3 linked regions of the Homo sapiens genome follow. The protein of the gene in region 2 interacts with the protein of the main gene of each other region in a pairwise test. Each region holds a gene or a part of one and is shown on either strand. Other genes may lie near its edges.

Region 1 (3,652 bases), on a different chromosome or scaffold from region 2:
TTCTTTCTTTCCTTACTTTCTCTTTCTGGCAGGATCTTGCTCTGTCCCCCAGGCTGTAGTGCAGTGGCATGATCTTGGCTCACTGTACACTTGACCTCACTGGCTCAAGTGATTCTCCCACCTCAGCCTCCCAGGTAGCTGGGGCTATAGATGTACTCCACCATACCTGGCTAATTTTTTGATTTTTTGTAGAGATAGGATCTTACTTTGTTAGCCAGGTTGTTCTCGAACTCCTGGGCTCAAGCAGTCTTCTCCCTCCACCTCCTAAAGTGTTGGGATTACAGGCGTGAGCCACCAGACCTGGCCCACAGTTCTTTTTTGCAGGTGGTGAGGGCTCCTTCTGCCCTTCCACCCAGGCCAGAAACCCCGGCCTTCTTCGCAAACCTTGCCCATGTCTGCGCCAGGACACTGCCTCTGCCCCAGGCATGTGGCATCTCTCCCTTCCAGCCTGACCCCTCAATCCCTTGAGTAAACTTCTAGGGCCCTCATTGACCACCAGGCCCGTTGAAGCTCCCAATTTGGGGCTCCTGGCCTCCCAAAGTCTCTGTGCCACCCCACCCCGACCTCAGTTATCTCCATGCCCACCGCCACCCATGCAGGGCCTGGGGCTTGGCCCCACTTTGCCTGGCCGAGCCCCGCTCATACATTGTGCTCAGCCTGGGTCCCTTCCCTTTGGAAGCTCTTTCTGCAGCTGCCTGCCCTCCCAAGGCATCTGTCTTTTCTTTTCTTTTTTTTTTTTTGAGATGGAGTCTCACTCTGTCACCCAAGCTGGAGTGCTGTGGCCCATTTTGGGCTCACTGCAACCTCTGCCTCCCAGGTTCAAGTAATTTTCGTGCCTCAACTTCCGGAGTAGCTGGGATTACAGGTGCCCACCACCATGCCCAGCTAATTTTTGTCTTTTTAGTAGAGACAGGGTTTCGCCATGTTAGCCAGGCTGGTCTCGAACTCCTGACCTCAAGTGATCCACCTGCCTTGGCCTCCCACAGTGCTGGGATTACAGGGGTGAGCCACCGCGCCCAGCCCATCTGCCCTTTTTCTTTCTTTCCTTTTTTTTTTTTTTGAGGCGGAGGTTTGTTCTTGTTGTCCAGGCTGGAGTACAATGGCGCGATCTCGGCCCACTGCAACCTCTGCCTCCTGGGTTCAAGCGATTCTCCTGCCTCAGCCTTCTGAGTGGCTGGGATTACAGGCATGTGCCACCATGCCCGGCTAATTTTGTATTTTTAGTAGAAACGGGGTTTCTCCATGCTGGTCAGGCTGATCTCGAACTCCCGACCTCAGGTGATCTGCCCACCTCAGCCTCCCAAAGTTCTGGGATTACAGGCGTGAGCCACTGTGCCCAGCCTCCATCTGCCCTTTTTCTATGTGCTTTCCAGTCAGGGCCTTGTTGATGTCCCGGAGTAGAGACCAGTTCCAGGAGAGGAGGCTGTCATTTTAAGGACACAGAGGACATTAAAAAGGGTAAAATATTGTAGCTGGGTGCAGTGGCTCCTGCCTGTAATCCCAGCACTTTGGGAGACCAAGGTGGGTAGATTGCTTGAGCCCAGGAATTTGAGACTAGCCTGGTTAACATAGGGAGACCTTGTCTCTACAAAAAAACAAAAATTAGCTGGGCGTGGTGGTACACACCTGTAGTCCCAGCTACTGGGGAGGCTGAAGCAGGAGGATCACTTAAGCCCAGGAGTTTGAGGCTGCAGTGAGCTGTGATGGCGCCACTGAACTCCAGCCTGACCCACAGAGCAAGACCCTGTCTCCAAATTTAAAAAGAAAAAAGTAGAATATTGCAGAAATCCAGAAAAATAGCCAGGGGGATTTTGTTGTTGTTTTTCCTTACCATAAGGCATACCAAGCTATCTCCCTGTAGAAAAGTCTCAGTGGTGTCCCTCGTTGCACTTGGCATGAAGCCCACGCTCCTTCCCGAGGCCCTCAGGCCCCCCTACCTGTCCCCAGCTACCCTCCCTTTGCCCGCTCTCTCCAGCCACAACAGCTGCTTTCCCCTCTGCCCCCCACAGTGCGCCAGCTCCAGTGTCCCAAGAAATCACCCTCACGTGAGTCCCCACCGCTCCGCTTCCCATCGAGGCCTCTTCTGATTTCAGAGCAGATTCCCTGCATTCCACAAAGGAGCCTCCCACCCTTGTGTTACAGGAAAGGGGTCCCAATCCAGACCCCAAGAGAGGGTTCTTGGATCTCGCACAAGGAAGAATTCAGGGCGAGTCCATAGAGTAAAGTGAAAGCAAGTTTATTAAGAAAGTAAAGGAATAAAAGAATGGCTACTCCATAGGCAGAGCATCCCTGAGGGCTGCTGGTTGCCCTTTTTAAAAAAATTAATTAATTAATTAATTTACTTATTTTTGAGATGGAGTTTCTCTCGTCGCCCAGGCTGGAGTGCAATGGCACAATCTCGGCTCCCTGCAACCTCCACCTCCCAGGTTCAAGCAATTCTCCTGTCTCAGCCTCCTGAGTAGCTGGGATTACAGGCACACACCACCATGCCCGGCTAATTTTTGTATTTTTAGTAGAGACAGGGTTTCACCATGTTGGCCAGGCTGGTCCTGAACTCCTGACCTCAGGTGATCCACCCACCTCGGCCTCCCAAAATGCTGGGATTACAGGTGTGATCCACCGCGCCCAGGCTGGTTGCCCATTTTTATAGTTATTTCTTGATAGTATGCTAACCAAGGGGTGGATTATTCATGCCTCCCCTTTTTAGACAATATAGGGTAACTTTCTGACGTTGCCATGGCATTTGTAAACTGTCATAGTGCTGGTGGGAGTGTAGCAGTGAGGACAACCAGAGGTTACTCTCGTGGCCATCTTGATTTGGGTGGGTTTTAGCCGGCTTCTTTACTGTAACCCGTTTTGTCAGCAAGGTCTTTATGACCTGTACCTTGTGCTGACCTCCTGTCTCATCCTGTGACTTAGAATGCCTTAACCATCTGGGAATGCAGCCCACTAGGTTTCAGCCTTATTTTACCCAGCTCCTATTCAAGATGGAATTGCTCTGGTTCATACGCCTCTGACGCTTGGAAGGGGTGTGGGTGTCAGCTGCCCCATGGGAGGGGTGAAGGCATGAAGCGGCCCCTCCCTGGCCTGGCCTGCTTTCTTCCTCCTCCTTCACTCCTGGGCCACCTGCAGTTGCTGGTGTGCCTTTTCAACAGACATTACTGAGGCCCTCAGAGGTGCCAGGCGCAGGGGCGTCCTGTGTTTTCTGCACCCGACGCTTTCCTGCCCCTGTGGTGGTCATGTTCACAGACCTCTTCTCTCCCCCTTGTTGTGCCACAGGTGATTCTCCTAGGTCACTGGCTGCTGACAACCTGGTAAGTGACTCTGTGGGTATCTTGTGTGTCTCCTGCGGTCTCAGGGTCTGTGTCAGCCGGGTCAGGTCCTGGTTCTGCCGTGTTTTAACCAGGTCACTTTGGGCCAGACAGCTCTGCCTCTCCGGGTCTTGATTTCCGTCTGTACAATAGGCATAAGGATTGCACACCCTGCAGGAGCTGGGAGGGAGACGTGGAAGTGCTCATCAGAGCTCCCCAGGGCCTGCCCCACAGTGAGGCCTCAGCACTGCAGCTTGATTTTCACCTTTACCATCTCTTTTAATCTGTTGAGCTTCTGGAGACATTTCTCTGCCAAACCAAGACTGGAAACCATTGAGCTC
Region 2 (2,482 bases):
CTGTCTGAGGTGTGCTTCATGGGCTGTGGACCCAGAGTGTGTGGTGGGTAGGGTGAGGGGTATGTGTAGCTCCCGTTCAGCCTCCAGAGCTGAGGCAGGACCTCATCTCCAGTGAGTCTGTCTGCAGGAGGCAGGCCAAGCCCTAGCGTAGGACTCAGGAGAACTCACGCCAGAGAACTCACATCCAGGCCCTGTCTCACTGGATGACCCAGGGACATGTTTCCTCTCTCTGGAATTCAATTTCCTCTTGCGCAAATGAGGTTTCTGGTCCCTTTCAGGAGATTTCCTCTGATTGCTTCCCTGCAACACAGCGCAGACATGCTCCCAGAACCACACCCCCACAAGCACTGGTTTGCATGAGCCCAACAGGAAGAACTTTGCAAAGCTGGGGCTGGGGACAGGGAGGTGGGGGAGGTGAAAGGGAGGAGGGAACCAGGGCCCCTGGGGCAATGGCAGAGGCTCAGTCCCAGCCACAAGGTCTCTGTGAAGAGGAGCTGTTGTTTCCCAGCGCACCCCACCTCCACTGTTGCCCCCAGTGAGTGCTGGACACAGGAACCTCAGCCACAGGGTTTTGCTGCTATGGCTGAACTTTTATTGAGCGTGTTGTCTGTGCAGAGCGCTGTGCACGAGGTGGAAGCAAACGAGGGAGGAAAACAAAGCCACACCCCTGCCCACAGAGGATGGAACAGAAGGGCCGCTGAGGTCAGGAAGGCAAGGTTGCCACTAGGTGTTACTGTGGGGCCCAGATGCCGCCATGCTGTTCACCCTTCAAAGGGTGGCATCTCAGCCCACGCAGTCCTCCTCCAGCTTCGCAGCAGCCAGGACCTCCCAGTGCAGTGACCTGGCCTCCCCAGGTAGGAGGCCTAACCAGAGTTGAAAATGATCCTGACGCTCCTGAGGGCTGCTGGGAGATGAAAGGGGCAAGGGCAGTGGCGGCCTGGGGAAAGAGGAAAGAAAGAAGGGGAAGCAGGGAGGGCTCCAATACGGAGGCCGCGCTGGGGCGATCACTGGTTCATCCACAGCCACAGGTTGGCAATGCTGGCCGACACCAGCACGGCGATGATCAGGGTCTCCCTGTGGCGCCAGGTGGCGCCCTGTTCCTCCAGGGCGCGCAGACGCCGGTTGACTGCATACAGCTGCAGAGGAGTCAAAGGCAGGGCTGCTGAGCGAGGCTCTTCTCCAGAAGCCCACAGCACAGCCATGGGAAAAGCATAAAGTTAGAGCAAGAAGGGGCTTGATTGCCCTTTGGCGGTGGAGCGGGGAGCGCCCCTAGTGAGAAGCAGGAGGCTGGGCCAGGTCCGCGGGACCAAAGACCTGGCTGCTACGTCTGCAGGCCCCACTTTTGCCTTCTCCCTTATGTTCACTTCCCTTCTCTGGAAGAGACCAGCCCATTCCAGCTGCGCCGGGGAGCCAAGGAAGAAAGGATCTCCTCCTAAGAAGGTCTGGGTTTGGTTTGAACAAAGGCGACCCCTCTCTCAGACCCTTAGGTATCACTCTCTCTCTGGACATAGAACCCTTATCCTTGTATGTTCCCTCTTCCTCCACCTTTTATCTGCCCCTATTCCCTACCAGCATCTCAGGGACAGCAGTGAGTTTGAGGCTGGACATCTATGCGGGGTGTCAGAGCCATGGGGATGAGGAGGAAGAGGAAGGGAATCTGCCCCACCTCCAGCGCTAAAGGGAAAGATGACTGTAAGGGACTACAGGACCCCAGCTGTCGAGCCCTGCCTATTCCAAGGCACTGTGATTCTGCTTGCACCCACCGATTGGGTCCCTCCTCACCTGTCTTCTCATGACTTCCATCTCCAGTACATTGAACTCTTCCAGGCTAGTCTGCGCCACTGCATCTGTCCCTGGGTTGCTGGGAGAGAAAAAAGACAGATGGTCAAAGCTGCTGGTGGTCCCTGGCAGGGAGCACAAGAAGGCAGTGAGGTCAAGCAGGTAAGGTCGTGATCTTCTTGGACAGTGACTCTATCAGCCTCCAGTCCTCTTCCATGGTAAAGAGGGCCTAGGGCCTTGAGGGCTGGGAGTCAGCCTGAGCTAGCCTGAGCCAGCCTGGCCCAGCCCAGTCCAGCCCAACTCGGCTAGGCCGCAGAGCACTGGGATGCCCCAAATGGGCAGGGAGCCAGGGTACTCATGGTCTCTGACAGGGAGGCATTCCAGGCCCTCATGACTCCATCCTGGCCAGGCTGCTCACCAGCCCCTCTGCCCCACTCCGGGCCCTGTCTGAGCAGCCAGGGCCCACAGACCCTCAGCTCTTACCGATCATAATGGAAACGTATGCCTTGGAAATTGCCAGCGTACTCCTGGAGATGGGCATCCCCATGGCCTGATTCTCTCAGCATTCTGGGCTTTGGCAGCTGGGACCCCTGAAGAAAGGAATGGTCAGTAAAGTAGCCTGCCCAACCCCACATGAGTGGCTTCTCCAGTTTGCCCAGAGCCAATGGTGCACCCCATGGGGAATCACATGGTGCCTGGTCTC
Region 3 (3,652 bases), on a different chromosome or scaffold from region 2:
CAGAGAGAGTGACTTTTATATAAATAGATGATTTTTATTAAAGCACAACTAAATACAGAAACAAAGTTATCTATAATTCCTGCTAACTCCACAGAGAAAGACTAAGAATTTAGCTGGGAAGAAATTGGCAAGGCTTCAGCATAGAAATGCACTTAAACTGGGATTTCTAATAGTTTGTTAAAAGTGACACTAAGTGATTACCTCAGTGTTGCAGTTAGTGTATTTTGCTTTAAAAGGTATATTTCAGGACTGAAAAAAGCCTTTAAGTTGCAGAATAATTCGTGGTGACATTTCAGTCCATCAGACCAGTGGAGGCAAGGACTAGGAAATTGGGTTCTTCCCAGGGGGCCCCAAATCATAACAGGTAGGAGACCCTATCTTTGCTACTCACAAAGGCAACCTTACATCTGATTAAAACAGAATATCGTGGATGGAGGGCTTCTTGACCCATTGTCATGACTGTGTTCACAGCAGCACTGCAATGTTGCCCAGTAATGAATGGTTGTATGTGGCAGGGACCCACTACTCTTTCTCTGTAAAACCAACCCTGTCCTGGCCTTCCCTAGTCTGAATTGGGTTGCTGTAGGACTTTTTGTTTGCTTGCTTATTGTACTCTGTTTGTTGGATTGGTTGGTGGCTGATTTTTCCCTTAAATCTATTGTGTCATGCTTACCCGTATTGAACCCATGGAATGTTTTGTAGGACTTTGTTTTCCAATTTGCTGAGGTATTTTAATTTCTTTTCTAATTCAGGATTTCTGTGTGAGCCTTCAAATGCACAACTAGCTTTTTTCTCCTGACAAAAATTAAACAGAGCAGAAAGCACTAGGCTTAAGTGATTGCTTTAATTTTCTTTCTTTAACATAATTTGTTGGGAGACTTTACAAAGGAATTATTCAGGAGAAGTTTGGATGATCACGCATGGCTGAAGGGTCTCCCAGGACCATGCTTTTGCAGCTCTCTCACTCTGGGTATTCTCTTTCATTGAAGGTTCTAGTAAAGATAGAATATATTTAGGATGAGCCTGAATTATTAGGATTTTTGGTGATGATCTCTGACATTGAGGAGGCAATATGGTTATCTTAAGGATCCCAGGGGCATCCAGATATTTCTAATACATTGATGTTCTTAAAGGACTGTAAGAAAATTCTCTATTGGATGGAACCTCTGGGAGGTAAACAACTGTGAATTAGAATAAGAATTGGCTTTGCCAGCTAGTTCTGTCTATTCTCCTAAAAACCATCACCTCCTATGGAGGTAGATAGCCATGGTGATGTGAGGCCCTGAACTAGACAGAAGTGTCAGTGACTTTGGTTCAAAAAGTTTCTTAAGATTTAGCCAAGGCTGAGCATAGTGGCCCATGCCTGTAATCCCAGCACTTTGGGAGGTCAAGACAGGTGAATTGCCTTAGCTCAGGAGTTTGAGACCAGCCTGGGCAACATGGCAAAACCCCATCTCTACAAAAAAAAAAAAAAAAGAAAGAAAGGAAAAAAAGCTTCTGCCAACCTGATAGGTTTCTGTCATTAGTGTATTATTTTAGAGCTTCAGGAAATTGAGGTCTGCAGAGAAGTCATCCCAGGAGCAGAAAGTGAAATTCTCAACCTGCCTGTTGAGAATTTGGACACACCCTCCTGGAAGTGAGAAAATTAGTCTTTGCCAGAATAAATTGCACAGCAAGCATTTATAGCAGACAGATAGATGCTTGGTGCTGTGATGGGGCCTTCAGGTGGAGCATAAAGAAAAGTGTGCAATGTGATCCTTTCTCTTTGAGATCTCACAATTTATTTTGCATATTGGTTTCCTGATGTTCTCCAAAACCAAGGGTCTTTCTAGCAACCATCCATCAAGGTGCAGTAGGGGCTAAGATACCACTGCCTTTTGGCTGAGCCCTGGTCTCCCTTTCCAGGCCTTGGGTCTAAGCCCCTCATTGAAATCAAGGCCCAAGAGGATGGGAGCATCTGGCTGGAGTGCATATCTGGAGGGTGGTACCCAGAGCCCCTCACAGTGTGGAGGGACCCCTACGGTGAGGTTGTGCCCGCCCTGAAGGAGGTTTCCATCGCTGATGCTGACGGCCTCTTCATGGTCACCACAGCTGTGATCATCAGAGACAAGTATGTGAGGAATGTGTCCTGCTCTGTCAACAACACCCTGCTCGGCCAGGAGAAGGAAACTGTCATTTTTATTCCAGGTTAGTTCTCTGCCCTCTGAGACCTATCAAGTGTATGCAGGATCCTCAGCACCCAGATGGAGCCCAGAGCGGGAATGGGGGCAGCAGTGTGGGTGGAATGGTCCTGGGCCCTGAGGAGCTGGAGGCTGCAGCTGAGTTGAGACGTCTCCCCTCCTCACAAAGGGAGATTCAAAGAGTCCCAAAACACAAGAGTAGGAGCCTCTTCTCTGAGGGTAAACCTGGTCTTTTTTTTCTTGATTAGGTCTTTATGCTGCAACAGTTGTAAAATATTAAGGACAACCATCAAACCTGGAGAGTAGTGTGGGTGGGTGACTGTCTATGCTTGGCATTCCTGTATGTTGCAGCCATCCCTTCCTGTCTATGGGACTTCCCAAAGGACAGAGCTGGGGAAATTCCCTATCAAGAGACATTCATAAATGTATTCAACAAATGTTCAACAAGCATTTCTTATGTTTAAGACTGTACAGGAAACCAAGGGTCAATAATTGAACAAAATATATCAAAATTTCTCTCCTCAAGGAGTTCATATTCTAGAGAGAGACAGCGGCCGGGCACGGTGGCTCACACCTGCAATCCCAGCACTTTGGGAGGCCAAGGTGGTTGGATCATGAGTTCGGGAGTTCAGGACCAGCCTGGCCAAGATGGTGAAACACCATCTCTACCAAAACTACAAAAATTAGCCGAGTGCGGTAGCAGGCGCCTGTAATCCCCGCTGCTTGGGAGGCTGAGGCAGGAGAATTGCTTGAACCCAGGCGGCAGAGCTTGCGTCAAGATCGTGCCACTGCACTCCAGCCTGGGCAACAGAGTGAGACTCTGTCTTAAAAAAGAAAAAGAAAAAAAGGGAGCGCGAGAGAGAGACAGCAATATATGAAATAATTGAAACAAGTGATTAAATAAATAATAATCTATATATTCTATCACATGGTGACGAGCATGTAGGAAAAATTAAGCAAAGAGAAAATAGAGAGTTCCAGGGGTGTGAGGCATCAGAATTATTAACAAGGTGGTCAGGGAAGACTTCACTGTAAAGATGGAAATTGAGCAATCAAGACAAGGAACCATCAGATGCTTAAGGACTGAGCAGCCAAGGTACAGGAAGAGCATATGCAAAAGGCCTGAGGAAGGAGCTTGTCTGGCAGTTTCCAGGACTCCCAGGAGGTGATGCTGGTGTGGCTGAAATGGAGTGAGTTCAGGAAGTAGGGGGAGATGAATTCACAGAGTGATGCAACTACGTTATATATGGCAGCACAGGCCACAAACAGGCTTTGGCTTTTAGAGTGAGTGAGTGGGAAGCATTGGAAGGTTTTGAGCAAATAATTAACATGATCTCACTTGGGCTGCTCTGCTGAGAGTAGATTACAGAATAGAGCAGAACAAGAAGGAGGGCACTCTAGTATTCCAGGCGTGAGTGATGGTGGTTTGAGGCAGGGTGATGGCTGTGCTGACTCAGCATGGCTGGTTAGTT

What was found.
Region 1: the proteins of FATE1 (region 2) and AGTRAP interact in binary tests that used the Homo sapiens proteins (3 or more experiments, as listed by UniProt).
Region 3: the proteins of FATE1 (region 2) and BTN2A2 interact in binary tests that used the Homo sapiens proteins (3 or more experiments, as listed by UniProt).

What each region holds. Positions count from the first base shown.
Region 1 is NC_000001.11:11,742,524-11,746,175, forward strand, and holds part of AGTRAP (type-1 angiotensin II receptor-associated protein), read left to right. Parts: intron 1-2,009; coding exon of another isoform or gene 2,010-2,045; intron 2,046-3,279; coding exon 3,280-3,314; intron 3,315-3,603; coding exon of another isoform or gene 3,604-3,652. UniProt on the Homo sapiens protein: Appears to be a negative regulator of type-1 angiotensin II receptor-mediated signaling by regulating receptor internalization as well as mechanism of receptor desensitization such as phosphorylation.
Region 2 is NC_000023.11:151,721,282-151,723,763, reverse strand, and holds the end of FATE1 (fetal and adult testis-expressed transcript protein), read right to left. Parts: intron 2,370-2,482; coding exon 2,263-2,369; intron 1,862-2,262; coding exon 1,783-1,861; intron 1,137-1,782; coding exon 1,005-1,136; 3' UTR 570-1,004; downstream 1-569. UniProt on the Homo sapiens protein: Involved in the regulation of endoplasmic reticulum (ER)-mitochondria coupling. Negatively regulates the ER-mitochondria distance and Ca(2+) transfer from ER to mitochondria possibly implicating it in the regulation of apoptosis.
Region 3 is NC_000006.12:26,386,108-26,389,759, forward strand, and holds part of BTN2A2 (butyrophilin subfamily 2 member A2 isoform a precursor), read left to right. Parts: intron 1-1,905; coding exon 1,906-2,187; intron 2,188-3,652. UniProt on the Homo sapiens protein: Inhibits the proliferation of CD4 and CD8 T-cells activated by anti-CD3 antibodies, T-cell metabolism and IL2 and IFNG secretion.